2 separate regions of the Homo sapiens genome follow, and region 2 is linked to region 1. The links come from fine-mapping of genetic effects on gene expression. A gene starts in region 1. The other region holds a variant in brackets. All regions are shown on one strand. Distances are between the middles of the regions.

Region 1 (8,000 bases):
AGCAGGACCCCTATCCTGCTAGTTGCTGAATCCCCAGTGCCTAATACAGTCCCTGGAACATTGTAGTGTTCAAACTATTTGTTGAATAAATTAATGAATCATCAATCCCCTGAGACCAGGCATTGCATTTCCCGTTCTTTATTTCCTAATCCTCTTAGGGAAGGACCCAGGCATGCAATATCCCCTCCATCCCATCCCCATGCTCCCCACCCAGTGGGAGGACTCACTTGGCAAAGGGGATGAGGTTGACTCCATCATCCTGCACCTGCATGACTGGACGGGGCTGGGTAGTTAGTCTCCTTTTTGGTGCTGGGAGGATAATGGAAAAGAAGTCATTCATTCGGGCTGGATGTGGTGGCTCACGCCTGTAATCCCAGTACTTTTGGAGGCCAAGGCGGGCGGATCATGAGGTCAGGAGTTCAAGACCAGCCTGGCCAATATAGTGAAACCCCATCTCTGCTAAAAATACAAACATTAGTCGGGTGTGGTGGCGCGCGCCTATAGTCCCAGCTACCCAGAAAGCTGAGGCAGAAGAATCGCTTGAACCTGGGAGGCGGAGGTTGCAGTGAGCCGAGATCGCGCCACTGCACTCCAGCCTGGGGGACAGAGCAAGACTCTGTCTCAAAAAAAAAAAAAAAAAAAAAAAAGGCATTCATTCATATAATGTCTGTAGGGATGAGGCCAGTAGCAGATCTAGAGAATGGAAAAAGAATGTATGGATGCTGAAAAAAGAGAGAGCTTAAAAGGTATTTGTAGCGGCTGGGCGCAGTGGCTTATGCCTGTAATCCCAGCCCTTTGGGAGGCCGAGGCAGGCAGATCACCTGAGGTTGGGAGTTCGAGACCAGTCTGACCAACATGGAGAAACCCCGTCTCTACTAAAAATACAAAATTAGCTGGGCATGGTGGCGCATGCCTGTAATCCCAGCTACTCCGGAGGCTGAGGCAGAAGAATCACTTGAACCAGGGAGTAGGAAGTTGCAGTGAGCTGAAATTGCACCACTGCACTCCAGACTGGCAACAGAGCAAGACTCTGTCTCAAAAAAAAAAAAAAGGTATTTGTAGTGCTGGACTGTTAATTGAACATTTAGGTTGAAGATAGTGAGCACAGGAAAAGTGGATGTGGTAAAAAGATAAAGGAGAAAGCAAATCTTCTGAAGCTAAATGTGCAGAATAAGTGAAATTTACAGATGGCAGTTAAGCGACAACTGGCAATATGGGACAATGAAATTGAAAAATGATGACAGTGGAGACTGGGTGGGGTGGAGGCATTTGGGGGTAAGAGAAGTGACAGAATTGAGGGTTCTCAATGAATCAACTATGAGTGGTTAGTGAAAGTTAATTGTGTGGGCCGGGTGCAGTGGCTCACACCTGTAATCCCAGCACTTTGCGGGGCTGGGGCAAGAGAATTGCCTGAGCTCAGGAGTTGGAGACCAGCCTGGGCAATACAGAGAGACGTCATCTCTATTTAAAAAAAAAAAGTTGGCTGGGTGTGGTGGCTCACGCCTGTAATCCCAGCACTTTGGGAGGCTGAGGCGGGTGGATCACCTGAGGTCGGGAGTTCGAGACCAGTCTGACCAACATGGAGAAACCCTGTCTCTACTAAAAAATACAAAAATTAGCCGGGCATGGTGGCACATGCCTGTAATCCCAGCTACTCAGGAGGCTGAGGCAGGAGAATTGCTTGAACCAGGGAGGCAGAGGTTGCGGTGAGTTGAGATCGCGCCATTGCACTCCAGTCTGTGCAACAAGAGTGAAACTCTGTCTCTAACAAAATAAAAAAAGAAATTAAAAAAAGTTAAGTGTGGACATAATGGTCAACTGGTGACAGGGAAGGAGGGGGCAGTTGGGAATGCCTGTGGATAGGGAGGTCAGTTGCATATAGGGACAGCCAAAGATGACCTGAAGGCCAGTTGGGGTGGGGAGAAAGGGCAGTTAAGGCTGGGCACACTGGCTCACGCCTGTAATCCCAGCAATTTGGGAGGCGGAAGTGGGTGGATTGCTCGAGCCCAGGAGTTTGAGACCAGCCTGGGCAACATGGCGAAACCCCCTCTTTACCAAAATACGAAAAAGTTTAGCCAGGTGTGGTGGTGTGCGCTTGTACCCGGAAGGCTGAGGTGGGAGTGTCATCTGAGCCCGGGAGGTCAAGGCTGCAGTGAGGTAAGATCGCACCACTGCACTGCACTCCAGCCTAGGCGTCAGAGTGAGACCCTGTTTCTAAGAAGAAAAAAAAAAAAGCCAGGCGCGGTGGCTCAAGACTGTAATCCCAGCACTTTGGGAGGCTGAGGTGGGCGGATCACTTGAGGTCAGGAGTTCGAGACCAGCCTGGCCAACACAGCGAAACCCAGTCTCTACTAAAAATACAAAAATTAGCCGGGTGTGGTGGCAGGCATCTGTAATCCCAGCTATTCGGGAGGCTGAGGCAGGAGAATCGCTTGAACCCAGGAGGCGGAGGTTGCCGTGAGCCGAGGTCAGCCTGGGCAACAGAGCAAGACTCCGTCTCAAAAAAAAAAAAAAAAAAAAAAAAAGAATACTAGATAAGTTAGGAGAGAGTGCACATAGGCTCCCGAAGGACAGAAGCAGCCAGCTGGAACTGTAGAGGTGAACTAGTATTTATCCAAGGGAACTAGGGATGGGCTGGGAAAGCAGGTGAGGTCAAAAGCGGAGAGAAGTATACCGTGCGGAAGCGGCAGATGGGGCTAGTTGGAGTTGGGCTGAAAGGGCCTAAAGTGGGGTCTAAAGGGGATGTCCTGACTCGGAGGGGGGTCAGCAGAACGCGAGGGAGCAGCGGGAGCTGCGGGGCATTCGGGCCTCAGATAGTTGGGTCCAAGCGGGTGACCTAGATCCAAGGGCAGGATGGAGCTGAAGGAAGCCAGGAAGGATCCTCCACAGTTGACTTCGGGGTAGCCACGGCCTGCGCCTGCGAGGGTGGATGAGGACCCGAGGGTCCGGCTGGGGCTGAGGGGCTGCCTGGAGCCCCGCTGGAGGGAAGCGCCGGGCCGGAGGGCGCGGCCTGCGCCTGAAAGGGCGACGGGGACCCTCGACAGGTGGACCGGGCGTGGCCGGACCTTCCGGGCAGCCCCGCCCGAGGGCACGACTGGGGGCTGCTTCCCTCGAGAGGGGCCCTGAGGTGGTGGGCCCAGGCTGAAGGGCAGGCTGGGGCCTGAGGGACGCCCCGGGTCTGAGAGGGCAGCTCCGGCCTTAGGCGGCACCCGGGCCTGAAGGGGTTGTTTGGGCCTCAGGCGGCGTCCAGGGCGGCCGAACTTGAGGGCCAGGCGGGGACAGAGCGCCCGAGTAGCCGCGCCACGGCCGGCCGCATTTGGCCCCAGCACCTGAAGCAGCTGCGCGGCGAATTCTAGAACTCGGCGGGGCGGGGAGGAGAGAGACGGCGATTCGAGCCGCGGGAGGAGCCGGCGGGCGGTGCTCGTCTGAGGGCGGGGCCTGAGCGGAGCCACCTTCTGGGCGGGCCTCGGCAGGAGGCTCCGCCCCCTGGACGCGCCTCCAACGGCGGCGACGGGAACTGGGCCGGGGCCTGGGTGCCCCCGCGGGTCAGCCCCCGACGTTTCCCTGTTCTTCAGGCGTCTGCAACCCTCCTGGGTTGCGGCGTCTGCTCGCCCTTCTGCGTCCGCAGCTCGGTCCCCACGTTCCCGCTCGCTGGGCCCCACAGGCCAGGAGCGTTGCCCCTTTAACAAGAGTAGCCCGGGTCGCTCCCGGCTCCTTCCCGGGACCGCGCGTACCCGCCCCTCCGCGCGCGCTCGCGCGTCCCCCGCCCCTCGCTCCCGCCCCAGCTCGCGCTGCCCGGGCGGGCGCCGGCCGCTGGCGCCGCTACTGCTGCCGCCCCCGGGGCGCGAGTCCGCCGCCCGCCGCCCGGGCACCCGGCGAGGGGCGGGGGCAGCTCCGAACCGGCCCCAGATCCTTCCCGCTTCCGCCTCACGCTTCCCGGAAAGCTTGTCCCTCTCCGCCGAGCTGCTCCGGGAGCCCCGCCGCGCCGAGGTGAGGGCTGGGGAAGGGGGAGGGAAGGGACGCCCGCGGAGGAATGTGCCGGGTTGGGGGGCGGGGAGCCGGGGTCCGGCGGCGCGATCTAGGCTCAAGAGTCGGGATCATGTGCTGTTTGTTCCGCGGAGGCGCAGAGAGGTGCCAGGCCCGGGCGGCCGCCGGCTGGCTGGACAGGAGGACGGGTCCGCATGGCCGCCCTGAGAGGCCGGGCGGGGACCTGTGTGAGAACCGCCGGGTGGGCAAGGTGCAGGTGGCCCAAGACCCCCTTTCGGGCCGGTCGGCCCCACCCCAGCCGCCCAGTATCCTCCTTGTACCCCACGGCTCCTTCACAGCTGCACCGGCCGACCCCTGTCCCTACCTCTATTCCCTTACCCCGCTGGCCCCCAGCCGTGCCACCCCATCCCTGTCCCATTAGCTGCAGCAACGGCGTCACCATCGCTTGTCCCCACCAGTGTCCTTCCCTCCCCTGGTCAGGGTCTAGGGGGTCAGGGCTGTTCTTCCTGAGCCAGCTTCTGTGATTCCAGCTACTCCCTTCCTGTCCTGGGACAGACCAGCCCCTCACCCTCCCATGCTCTGCCCAGGAAGACTGGTGAGGGGAGGCCCAGCGTGACAGGAGTTTGGGGTCCACTGGGGCCACAGGAGGGGGCTCCGCATCCCTTATCCTTCGTGGTCCTCCTCCCTGTTGTCCGTGGGCGTGGGCTGCTCAGCCTCTCCTCCCAGGGTGTGGGCACCCGATCACCCACATTCCTGGGCTCCAGCCTGGCACCTTCCCCAGGGCAGTGGACGCCATAGCACTAGCCCCAGGTTGGGGCTGGCACCAGCCAGCCGGCTTCCTTTTCTTTCTCCCTTTTAGGGAGGCCCCAGGGACCCTCTACCCTCAAACACAGGTATTTCTGGGCGCCCCAAGGGTGGAGCCCTGAGGGTTGGTCTGATGGCTACAGGATGACCCCACCCTCCCCTGCTCATTGTCCCGGATCCTGAGGAGGAAGTGCTGGGGGCTGGGCAAGGGGCTTAGAGCCCACACAGCTGGCCCTGTGGATCCCAGTCCTGGGCCCTACCTACAGTCCTTGGACTTTGCCCATCTGCACTACTGGCCTGGTGCATGGAGGTTGTGGGCCTCAGGTGGAAACTAGATTCTCCCTTGCCGACACTGTGGGGGAATTTGAGGACAGGTTTTGCATTTGCAGTTTCCTCTCTGGTCTCTCTTCTGGGCTCCCAGTTTGTGCTTTGGCGCCGGAGTTCCCCACCCTGTCTCTTTAACACCGTGTGTTTGCTGTGCTGTGTCTCTTCCTCCTTTCCTCTCCCATTCTTTCCTTCATAGCATGACCTCAGGCTTGCCTTTTGTCTTATTTCTCTAATTTTCTTGGTGTCTGTGACTCTCTGCCCCTCCTCTCTCTCTTCCCACCCCCCTCACGTCTCTGCCCATGTGCCCCTCTCTCTGAATTGCCCTCTGTCCAGCCTCTTTCTCTCTCTGTCCTCTATCTGAACGTTCAGTACATTTGCGAGTGACAAGGAATAAAAATATCACCGTCCCTGCCCTTGGATTCACATTGCATTCAGCCACTCTAGAGGGGCAGCTGTCCGTACTTTTCCTGCTATTCCCCCCGTAACCTTGGCCCTCCAACCTGGGAACCCCAGACGGGTCTCTGGAACCACAGGTGCCTTCTAACAACTCTTCCCCCGCAATCAGGGTATCTCCCAGAGCCCCAGCTGGTGTGGCCAGGCCCCAGGAGTAGGATGGGGCTCCCCCTACGAGGGCCGGTGGCAGCCAGAACTGATACAGCCCCCCTGGTCTGGGGCCAGGACGCCAGGTAACTGGGGGAGACCGCCCAGGTTCCTGCAAGCTGGAATATGGCTGGGGAGAGAGGCAGAAATACCTTTGGGAGTCTCTCAAGACAGTGACATTTGGGAGGAAAGCCAAGGGAATAAGAGCTGGGTCCTTGAGAGGCTGGGTGGCTCTGGGGGAGATGTGAAGAGACTGGTTCCGGGAAGAAGCTGGGAGGCAATGTCTGGGTCCCTGCAGTGGTTCTGACCCCACCACTCCTTTCTCTGTCCTCCAGCTGAGGAGGGCAGGAGTGTCTGGAGCTATGGCTGGTGCCTCGGTGAAAGTGGCAGTGAGGGTTCGGCCCTTTAACGCCCGTGAGACCAGCCAGGATGCCAAGTGTGTGGTCAGCATGCAGGGCAACACCACCTGTGAGTGAGTCCCCGGGGCCTGGCTGGGCACAGGCAGGGAAGGCCGGGCCCACCACACAGGCCAGTCCCGCTGGGCCAAACTAAGAGGAGGGTAATGCTGGGCACAGAGCAGGTGCTAGTCGTAAGGGCGGGGGCTGGGGCAGGCTGGCCTTTCCCGTGTTCCCAGTCCCTGGGAGGGGGAATGTTGGCCTGGAGCCCTCCATTGCCCAATCCAGGGAGGCAGCTCAGTGGGGGCGGGTCCTAGGAAGCCAAAATTAGCTTTGGTGGCTGGAGGGGGTGGGGAATGTTAAAGGGGAGAGAAGAGTCAGGACAGTGGTGAGGAGTGGGATGCTTGGATTCCAGGGGCTGGTTGGGGTATGGGCAGGGACTGGGAATACCTGACCTTGACTTTCCTTCCTTTACCCTCTCCTGCCCCTCAGCCATCATCAATCCTAAACAGAGCAAGGATGCCCCCAAAAGCTTCACCTTTGACTACTCCTACTGGTCACACACTTCGGTGGGTTGTTGGGCTGGGGGAAGAGCAAGGCAGTGAGAGACAGAGGATTTAGGTCCTGGGGAGGGGACATGTTAAGAAATAGGACCCCCAGGGGATTAGTCAGGGTGAATTGGGAGGATGATCCTGGGTGGGGGTGGTAGGACCCTTAGGCTGTGATTGAGGCCTCGACAGGAAGGCGGAATCCCTTGGGGTAATTAGGACTAGCAGGGGCTGGATAGGATCCTTGGGGTGGTAAGGACAATGATGAGGGTGGGAGGGCACACAGGACATTTGGGGAATCGTCAGTGATGGAAGCAAGACTCTTGGGACAGAGACACAAAGGATAAAGACATCCAGGGTTACTCTGTTTTTCTCTGCCCCCACTTTCTCCTAGACGGAGGACCCCCAGTTTGCATCTCAGCAGCAAGTGTATCGGGACATTGGAGAAGAGATGCTGCTCCACGCCTTTGAAGGCTACAACGTGTGCATCTTTGCCTATGGGCAGACCGGGGCTGGGAAATCCTATACCATGATGGGGCGACAGGAGCCAGGGCAGCAGGGCATCGTGCCCCAGGTACGCCTAGGACCTGGTGGGGCAGCCAGGGCAGGAGCATCTTTAGCTGCCCTCTGAGGAAGGAAGGACTAGGGTCGGAGGATTATGGAACAGAGACCTGGCTCTGAGGCCATTGGTGATGGGAGATAGAGGTTGACTGCAAGCTGGACAACCCTCTGGGGTGGGAGGGTCTTCGCCCCTATCAGAGGCAACGAGCCTCAGTGAGTAGAGCAGGGCTTTGGCATCAGTGAGCCTTGGGTTCGAGCGCCAGTTTTACGACTTACTACTGTTTTACTTGGTTTCATAATAATTTGTGAGTATAGTTCTCCTGCAGGCTTGTGTACCACCAGCAGAGTGTTAACTGTAGAAACGCCAATTGGGATAACGGAGTTAACCATAATTGTCCCTGGCTGTCCAGCATAGCAACCTGGCACACGGGCTTGGGAGTCAGAACTCCTGGGGTTTGCACCCTGGCTGGCTGAACGGTAGCCTGTGATCTTGGGCAAGTGGGGACCTCTCTGAGGTTGTTTTCCCATCTGTGAAATGGGAATAACCCCTCCCTCAAGGCTGTAGCAAGGGTTAAATGGGGTCACTTGGGACTGGGCCTGGCCTGTGGCTGGACACTTTAGGTGTGCCCTGAACAGGAGCTTCTCTGTATTTCCCTGTGTCCCCCTCCAGCTCTGTGAGGACCTCTTCTCTCGCGTTAGTGAGAACCAGAGTGCTCAGCTATCCTACTCTGTGGAGGTAAGCCCGGGTCTTGGTGGCAGGGCTGAGAGGGGTCCAGAC
Region 2 (8,516 bases), 78 kb before region 1:
CGGGACCAGGGAGGCAGAGGTTGTGGTGAGCCACGATCAACGATCACGCCATTGCACTCCAGCCTAGGCAACAAGAGTGAAACTCTGTCTCAAAAAAAAAAAAAATTATCAGTGGATGCTGCAGGATATAGGCCAGAGATTGAGAAGGAACAAGATATTTACATAGTATCAAAGTATCTCTCCACGAAAGTGCTCCTTAGTTACAAAGTAAAAAAACAGAATCTCCACAGTGGAGAAACATGGCGGATGCCACCTTAACCAAAGGATCAAAGTTAACATCCCCATTAAGGGTGAAATTGATATAATGTGTTTCCTGATAGGACCCACCAAGAAAGATCGCTGGTGTAATATTCCTGCCAGAAAAACATAACCCAAATACAACCTTGTGGAAACATCTGACAAATTGAGGGAAACTCTACATAATTACTGGACTATAATTTTCAAAAATGTCAAATTTATGAAAAATAAAGACAGGTTAAGGAACTAAAGCAAATTAAAGTGATATGGCCCTGGATTGGATTCTGGACAGGAAAGAAAAAAAGCAAAAAACAACAACCGTCAAGGACATTTTAGGACAATTGGCTAAATGGGATTATGGACTGTAGATTGGATGTGAGTATTGTATCAATGTTATATTTCCTAAAATTAATAACTGCACTGTAGTATATAAGGAAATGTCTTTGTTTTAGGAAACACATACTGAAATATTTAGTGGTAAAGAAACATAATGTCTTCAGCTTGTTCTCAAATGGTTCCAGAAAAAAACACTCAAGAGGGAGAAAGACAATATGATCAAGCAAATGAGACAAAATGTTAACACATGGTGAATCTGGGAAGAGGGCATGCAGTTCTTTGTACTATTCTGGTATTTTTTTCTGTAAGTTTTAAATTATATAAAAATAAAATCTTAGCAAAAATGCTAATGTCTGGGACTCACATCGCCCCCCAGTTTCTTATTTTAATTTATTAATTCATTATTTTATTTTATTTTATTATTTATTTATTTTGAGGCAGTTGTCTTGCTCTGTCACCCAGACTGGACTGCAGTGGTGCAATCTCAGCTCACTGCAACCTCCGCCTCCCGGGCTCAAGTGATCCTCCCACCTCAGCCTCCCGAGTAGGTGGGACCACAGGCACCTGCTACCATACCTGGCTGATTTATTTTTGTTTTCATTTTTAGCAGAGATGAGGTCTTACTATGTTGCCCAGGCTGGTCTCAAGCCTCTGCAGTCAAGCAATCCTGTCTCAGCCCCCAAAGTGCTGGGATTACATCTATGAGCCACTGAGCCTGGCTATTATTTATAATGGGGGAAAAAAGTGGAAACAAGGCAAATGATCATAAACAGCAGAAAGGAAAACTGCCTTTTACTCATTAAATACAATAAAGCATTGCGAATGAATGAATTATAGCTGTGGGTACATCAATATGAATATGTCTTAGAAATATAATGTCTGGCCGGGTGCAGTGGCTCACACCTGTAATCCCAGCATTTCTAGAAGCTGAGGTGGGTGGATCACTTGAGGTTAGGAGTTTGAGACCAGCCTCGCCAACGTAGTGAAACCCCGTCTCTAGTAAAACACAAAAAAATTAGCTGGGCATGGTTGGGCGCGCCAGTTACTGGGGAGGCTGAGACAGGAGAATCGCTTGAACCCAAGAAGCTGAGGTTGCAGCGAGCCAAGATCACACCATTGCACTCCAGCCTAGGCAACTAATGTTAACTCAAAAGTGTTTAGGACACTGGGGAAAAAAATATCGTATTAAATGGTTGCTGCTCTTAGAAGTAGGCCCATCCTGCAGGTAGAGACCAAGTGGAATTGCCTCCTGGTGCCCTGTTCAGATTTGGTGTGGCCCTTCAGGCAAACAGGAAAGCCTGCCTGGAGAAGCCCCAGAGAGATGCCTGGGGTCTGGCTGCAAAGGAACCAAGGGTCTGGTGCTTTCCCATTTGCTAGTGAGAGGCAGGGTCTTGCTCATGATGTGGGAGGTCTGGAGCATAGGAAAAGGCCTTCGGGTGCTGAGCAGCTGAAAGGAGTGACAGATGTCATCCCAGAATCCCAGAAGACATGAGACTCACAAAGCAACAGTAAGCAAGGAAAGCAGCTAATGCATTGGTAAGTCTAAGAAAGCTCTAACTGATGTTTTAAAATGGAAGCAGTTGTGGGAGAATCAAGCCCAGGAGTTTAAGATCTGCCTGGATAACCTAGTGAGACCTCATCTCTACTAAAATTTTTTTTTTTTCTGAGATGGAGTCTCGCTCTTGTCACCCAGGCTAGAGTGCAATGGCACGATCTCGGCTCACTGCAACCTCCGCCTTCTGGGTTCAAGCGATTCTCCTGCCTCAGCCTCCCCAGTAGCTGGGATTACAGGCGCCTGCCACCACACCTGGCTAATTTTTGTATTTTTAGTAGAGATGGGGTTTCACCATGTTTGTCACGCTGGTCTCGAACTCCTGACCTCCCGTGATCTGCCTGCTTTAGCCTCCCAATGTGCTGGGATTACAGGCGTAAGCCACCCTGCCTGGCCTAAAAATTTTTAAATTAGCTGGATGTGGTGGTGGGCACCTCTAGTCCCAGATACTTAGGAAGCTGAGTTGGGAGGATTGCTTGATCCCAGGAGTTAGAGGTTGCAGTGAACTATGATCGCACCACTGCACTCCAGCCTGGGTGACAGAACGAGACCCTGTCTCAAAAAATAAATAAATAAGTAAACAAATACATAAAATACAATGGAAGTAGTAATCTATAATTTAAATTCTCGGTGATATCTCATGAAAGATGAAGGGGTAGGGATAGAAAACGAAACACATTCTAAGAACCTTGTCTTGTTTTGGGGGCAATCAATAGTTATTAATTCTAGATTTTGATAGAAAGTTACATTTAAATGTTATGTTAAAAATCAATGATTGCTAGCTGGGCATGGTGGCTTACACTTGTAATCCCAGCACTTTAAGAGGCCGAGGAGGGTGGATCACCTGAGGTCAGGAGTTCAGGGGCAGCTTGGCCAACATGGTGAAACCCTATCTCTACTAAAAATACAAAAATTACCCAGGCATGGTGGCACACACCTGTAGTCCCAGCTACTCGGGAGGCTGAGGCAGGAGAATCGCTTGAACCTGGGAGGAGGAGGTTGCAGTGAGCTGAGATTGCACCACTGCACACCAGCCTGGGCAAAGAGCGAGACTCTGTCTCAAAAATAAATAAATAAATAAATAAATAAATAAATAAAATAATTCTGCTACATGCTGTTTGCAAGAGACAACAAAAACAAGTTGGTAAAAAGCTGGAAAATTCCAGGCATGGTGGCTCATGCCTGTAATCCCAGCACTTTGGGAGGCCCAGGCAGGTGGATCACCTGAGGTTAGGAATTCGCGACCATCCTGGCCATCATGGTGAAACCCCATCTCTACTAAAAATACCAAAAAATTAGCCGGGCACCTGTAATCCCAGCTACTCAGGAGGCTGAAGCAGGAGAATCACCTGAACCCCGGGAGGCAGAGGTTGTGGTGAGCCGAGATCGTGCCATTGCACTCCAGCCTGGGTAACAAGAGTGAAACTCCGTCTCAAAAAAAAAAAAAAAAAAAAAAATCTGGAAAATAAGAGAATAAATTATGGCATAAAAATACTAATATAAAGAAAACAAATATAGCAATATTAATGCCAAACAAAAGAATTCAAAACAGAAAGCATTAAAAGGGACCAAGGGGGATATTTCATCTTTATAAAAGGTATAATATACCAAGAAGCTATCATGGTTGTAGCGGGCTGAATGATGGCCCCCCTCAAAAGATACATCCATATCCTAATCCCTGACATCTGTGAATGTTACCTTATTTGGAAAAAGGAACTTTGAGATGTAAATGAATTAAGGACCTGAGATAAGGAGATGATTCTAGATTATCCAAGAGGGCCCGAAAATCAATGACAAGTGTCCTTATAAGAGACAGGAGAGGAGAAGACACAGACACACAGAAGCGAAAGTGATATAAAGACACTAGCAGAGATTAGAATGATAAAGCTCCAAAAGCAAGGAAAGCGTTGGAATGCTGGCAGCTGCCAGACACTGGAAAAGGCAGGGGAGCATTCTCTCCTAGAGCCTCCGGGGGAAGTGTGGCCATGGGGACACCTCGATTTCAGACTTCTGGCCTCCAGAACTGTGAGAGGATACATTTTATTTTCGCAAGCCACTCGATTTGTGGTAATATGTTACAGCAGCCAGCAAGTTGACTAGCTAATAGTCATAGGCATTTGTCTATCTAAAAACATAGCTTTAAAATAAAGTAAAATTGTATGGAAATAAAGAATAAAGTGAACAATCCACAATTGGGGTGCTTGATTTTAACATACCTCGCCCAGAAATGGACAGATCAAGTACACAAAAAATAAGAAAAAGTATACAGGATTTGAGAGTATATATTATCTCAACAGGGAATACATATTATTTTAAAATGCACATAGAACATAAAGAGAATAACAAATTCCAGAGGCCGGGCTTGGTGGCTCGCTAATGTAATCCCAGCATTTTGAGAGGCCAAGGCAAGAGTGTTCCAGACCAGCCTGGGCAATATGGCGAAACCCCATTTCCACTAAAAATACAAAAATCAGCTTGGTGT[G/T]GTGGTATGTGCCTGCAGTCCCAGCTACTGGGCAGGCTGAGGTGGGAGGATTGCTCAAGCCTGGTAGGCGGAGGTTGTAGTGAGCCGTGATTGCACCACTGCACTCTAGCCTGGGTGACAGAGACAGATCCTGTCTCAAAAAAAAAAAAATTCCAGAAAGTGAAAATCATGGGTACTAGTCAGGGCACTCTACAAAAACAGAACCATAACCAGACATGGTAGCACGCGCCTGTAGTCCCAGCTACCCGGGTGGCTGAGGCAGGAGGATGGCTTGAGCCCAGGAGGTTGCAGTGAACCATGATCACGCCACTACACTCCACCCTGGGCAACAGAGTGAGACCCAATACAACCAATAGGATGTATACATACACACACAAACACACACAAACACACGACAAATATTTATTTTAAGGAATTGGCTGACATGATTCATGATTATGTGCGCTAGCAAGTCCAAAACCTTGACTAGGGAGTCAGCAAGCTAGAGACCAAGGGAACAGTTTACGTAATCCTGGGTCCAGAGGTAGTCAGTCTGGAGGCAGAATTCCTTCCTTCTCAAGGGAACCTCAGCCTTTCCTCCTAAGCCATTCAACTGGTTGGATGAGGCCCACCCACATTATGAAAGATAATCTGCTTTACTCCAAGCATACTGATTTAAAGGTTAATCACATCTGAAAATACCTTCACAGCAACATCTAGAATAGTGGGTTGTTTTTTCATTTTTCATTTTTGTTTTCTTTTCTTTTCTGTTTTTTGAGACAGACTCTTGCTCTGTTGCCCTGGCTGGAGAACAGTGGTGCAATCTCAGCTCACTGCAACCTCTACCTCCCAGGTTCAATCGATTCTCCTGCCTCAGCCTCCTGAATAGCTGAGATTACAGGAACCTGCCACCGTGTTTAGCTTTTGTGTTTTATGTATAATATCCAGGGTTTTGTTGTATTTAGCAGGTGGAATAGGTAAAAGAAAGTGTACTCCATCTTCCCATAAGCAGAAGTCTCTCAGATGGATTTTTTTTTAATATAAACTTTTTTTCTTTCTTTTTTTTTTTTAGAGGTGGGATCTTGCTCTGTTGCCCAGGCTGGTCTGGGATTCCTGGGCTCAAGCCGTCCTCCCACCATACCTGGCCTATTGTAAACTTTAAAATGTATTGCAGTTTACAATAAACATCCAAGGTATGATGTGATGGATAATTTTATGTGTCAACTTGGCCAGACTAATAGTAGTAGTCAGTTGTTTGGTCAAACACTAGTCTAGGCCAGTCGCAGTGGCTCACGCCTGTAATCCCAGCACTTGGGGAGGCAGGCGGATCACTTGAGGTCAGGAGTTCAAGACTAGCCTGGCCAACATGAGGAAACCCAATCTCTACCAAAAATACAAAAATTACCCAGGTGTAGTGGTGCACACCTGTAGTCCCAGCTACTTGGGAGGCTGAGGTGTTTGGATCACTTGAGCCCAGGAGGCGGAGGCTGCAGTGAGCTGTGATCACACCACTGCATTCCAACCTGGGTGAGAAAGCAAGACTCTGTCTCAAAAAAAAAAAAAAAAAAAAAAAACTACACGGAGCCAGGTGTGGTGGCTCACACTTGTAATCCCAGCACTTTGGGAAGCCGAGGCGGGTGGATCATTTGAGGTCAGGAGTTCAAAGACCAGCCTGGCCTACCCGGTGAAACCCTGTCTCTACTAAAAATTCAGGGCCGGTGCAGTGGCTCACTCCTGTAATCCCAGCACTTTGGGAGGCCGAGGCAGGCGGATCACCTGAAGTCGGGAGTTCGAGACCAGCCTGACCAACATGGAGAAACCCCGTCTCTACTAAAAATACAAAATTAGCCGGGTGTGGTGGCGCATGTCTGTAATCCCAGCTACTCAGGAGGCTGAGGCAGGAAAATTGCTTCAACCCGGGAGGCGGAGGTTGCAGTGAGCCGAGATTGTGCCATTGCACTCCAGTCTAAGCGACAGAGTGAGACTCTGTCTCAAAAAATAAATAAATAAAATAGAAAAACAAAACAAACAAACCCAACTCATTTCTTCCCTGAATTCTCCTCAAAAAAATAAATAATTTTTTTCTTTCTTTTCTTTTTTTTTTTTTTTTGAGACAGAGTTTCACTTTTGCCACCAAGGCTGGGGTGCAATGGCATGATCTCGGCTAACTGCACCCTCCACCTCCCTGGTTCAAGCAATTCTCCTGCCTCAGCCTCTGGAGTAGATGGGATTACAGGTGCCTGCCACCATGTCCGACTAATTTTTTTTTTTTTTTTTTTTGAGACAGGGAGACAGGGTCTGGCTCTGTCGTCCAGACTGGAGTGCAGTGACATGATCATGTTTCACTGCAGCCCTGGCCTCCTGGGCTAAAGCGATCCTCCTGCCTCAGTAGCTGAGACTACAAGAGTACACCACCAGGCTGGGTGCGGTGGCTCACGCCTGTAATCCCAGCACTTTGGGAGGCCGAGGTGGGCAGATCACGAGGTCAGGAAATCGAGACCATCCTGGCTAATATGGTGAAACCCCATCTCTACTAAAAACAAAACAAAAAAATTAGCTGGGCGTGGTGGCGGGCGCCTGTAGTCCCAGCTACTCGGGAGGCTGAGGCAGGAGAATGGCGTGAACCCAGGAGGTGGAGCTTGCAGTGAGCCAAGATCGCGCCATTGCACTCCAGCCTGGGCGACAGAGCAAGACTCCGTCTCAAAAAAAAAAAAAAAAAAAAAAGTACACCACCAAGTCCAGCTAATGTTTTCGTTTTTGTTTTTGGTAGAGATGAGGCCTCACTGTGTTACCCAGGCCAGTCTCAAACTCCTAAATTTAAGCAATCTTCGAGCTTTGGCCTCCCAAAGTGCAGGGATTACAAGCATGAGCCACCATCCCCAAGCTCTTTTCTGAAATGTTTATTTTAGTTTTGGTTCAGGGGGTACATGTACATATTTGTTAGATGAATATATTGCATCCTGGTGAGGACTGGGCTTCTAGTGTACCCATCACCCAAACAGTCAACACTGGACCCATTAGGTAATTTTTTTTTTTTTTTTTTTTGAGACGGAATCTTGCTCTATCGCCCAATCTGGAATGTAGTGGCCCGATTTCGGCTCACCAGAACCTCTGCCTCCTGGGTTCAAGCGATTCTCCTTCCTCAGCCTCCCGAGTAGCTGGGATTACAGGTGCCCACCACCAAGCCTGGCTAATTTTTGTATTTTTAGTAGAGACGGGGTTTCGCCATGTTGGCCCCGCTGGTCTCGAACTCCTGACCTCAGGTGATCCATCCGCTTCGGCCTCCTGGGATTACAGGCGTGAGCCACCGTGCCTGGCCCCATTAGGTAATTGTCCAATGCTCATTTCCCTCCCAAGCTCCCCTCTTTCAAAGCCCCTAATGTCTATTATTTCCATCTTTATGTCCATGTGTAACCATTGTTTAGTTCCCACTTATAGGTGAGAACATGTAGTGTTTGGTTTTCTGTTTCTGAGTTAGTTCACTTAGGATAATGGCCTCCAGCTCCATTCATGCTGCTGCAAAGGACATGATTTCATTATTTTTAGTGGCTGCATAGCATTTCATGGTGTGTGTTTGTGTGTGTATCACATTTTCTTTAATTAATTACTTTTTTTTTTTTTTGAGATGGAGTCTCACTCTGTCACCCGGGCTGCAGTGTAGTGGCACAATCTCAGCTCACTGCAACCTCCACCTCCTGGGTTCAAATGACTCTCCTGCCTCAGCCTCCCGAGTAGCTGGGATTACAGGCGCCTGCCACCACGCCCAGCTAATTTTTGTATTTTTAGTAGAGACAGGGTTTAACTATGTTGGCCAGGCTGGTCTCAAACTCCTGACCTCAAGTGATCTGCCCGCCTCGGCCTCCCAAAGTGCTGGGATTACAGGCGCAAGCCACCGTGCCTGGCCTAATTAATTAATTTTTAGAGACAGGG

Direction of the effects. Alleles are on the strand shown, and positions count from the first base shown. SD is a standard deviation of normalised expression in the study named.
For the expression in prefrontal cortex of the gene that starts at base 3,356 in region 1, allele G in region 2 goes with a higher level than allele T (small effect, 0.33 SD a copy in GTEx).

What was found.
Region 2: its variant is fine-mapped to the expression of INCA1 in prefrontal cortex (GTEx, PIP 0.93).

Annotation. Positions count from the first base shown.
Region 1 is chr17:4,994,167-5,002,166 of GRCh38, forward strand. INCA1 (inhibitor of CDK, cyclin A1 interacting protein 1) reads right to left here and starts at 3,356. Exons shown (of 7, transcript NM_001394789.1): 1 at 3,330-3,356; 2 at 228-309. The coding sequence starts at 271. KIF1C (kinesin family member 1C) reads left to right here and starts at 3,784. Exons shown (of 23, transcript NM_006612.6): 1 at 3,784-3,990; 2 at 5,684-5,804; 3 at 6,054-6,186; 4 at 6,606-6,682; 5 at 7,056-7,235; 6 at 7,893-7,958. The coding sequence starts at 6,081. RefSeq lists silencers at 3,097-3,186, 3,227-4,096, 4,147-4,246 and enhancers at 5,489-6,100, 6,101-6,711.
Region 2 is chr17:4,915,797-4,924,312 of GRCh38, forward strand. No RefSeq gene overlaps it. Among named protein-coding and RNA genes, the nearest start is that of GP1BA, 12 kb to the right of the region's middle. The variant G/T (reference allele first, on the strand shown) is at 4,608.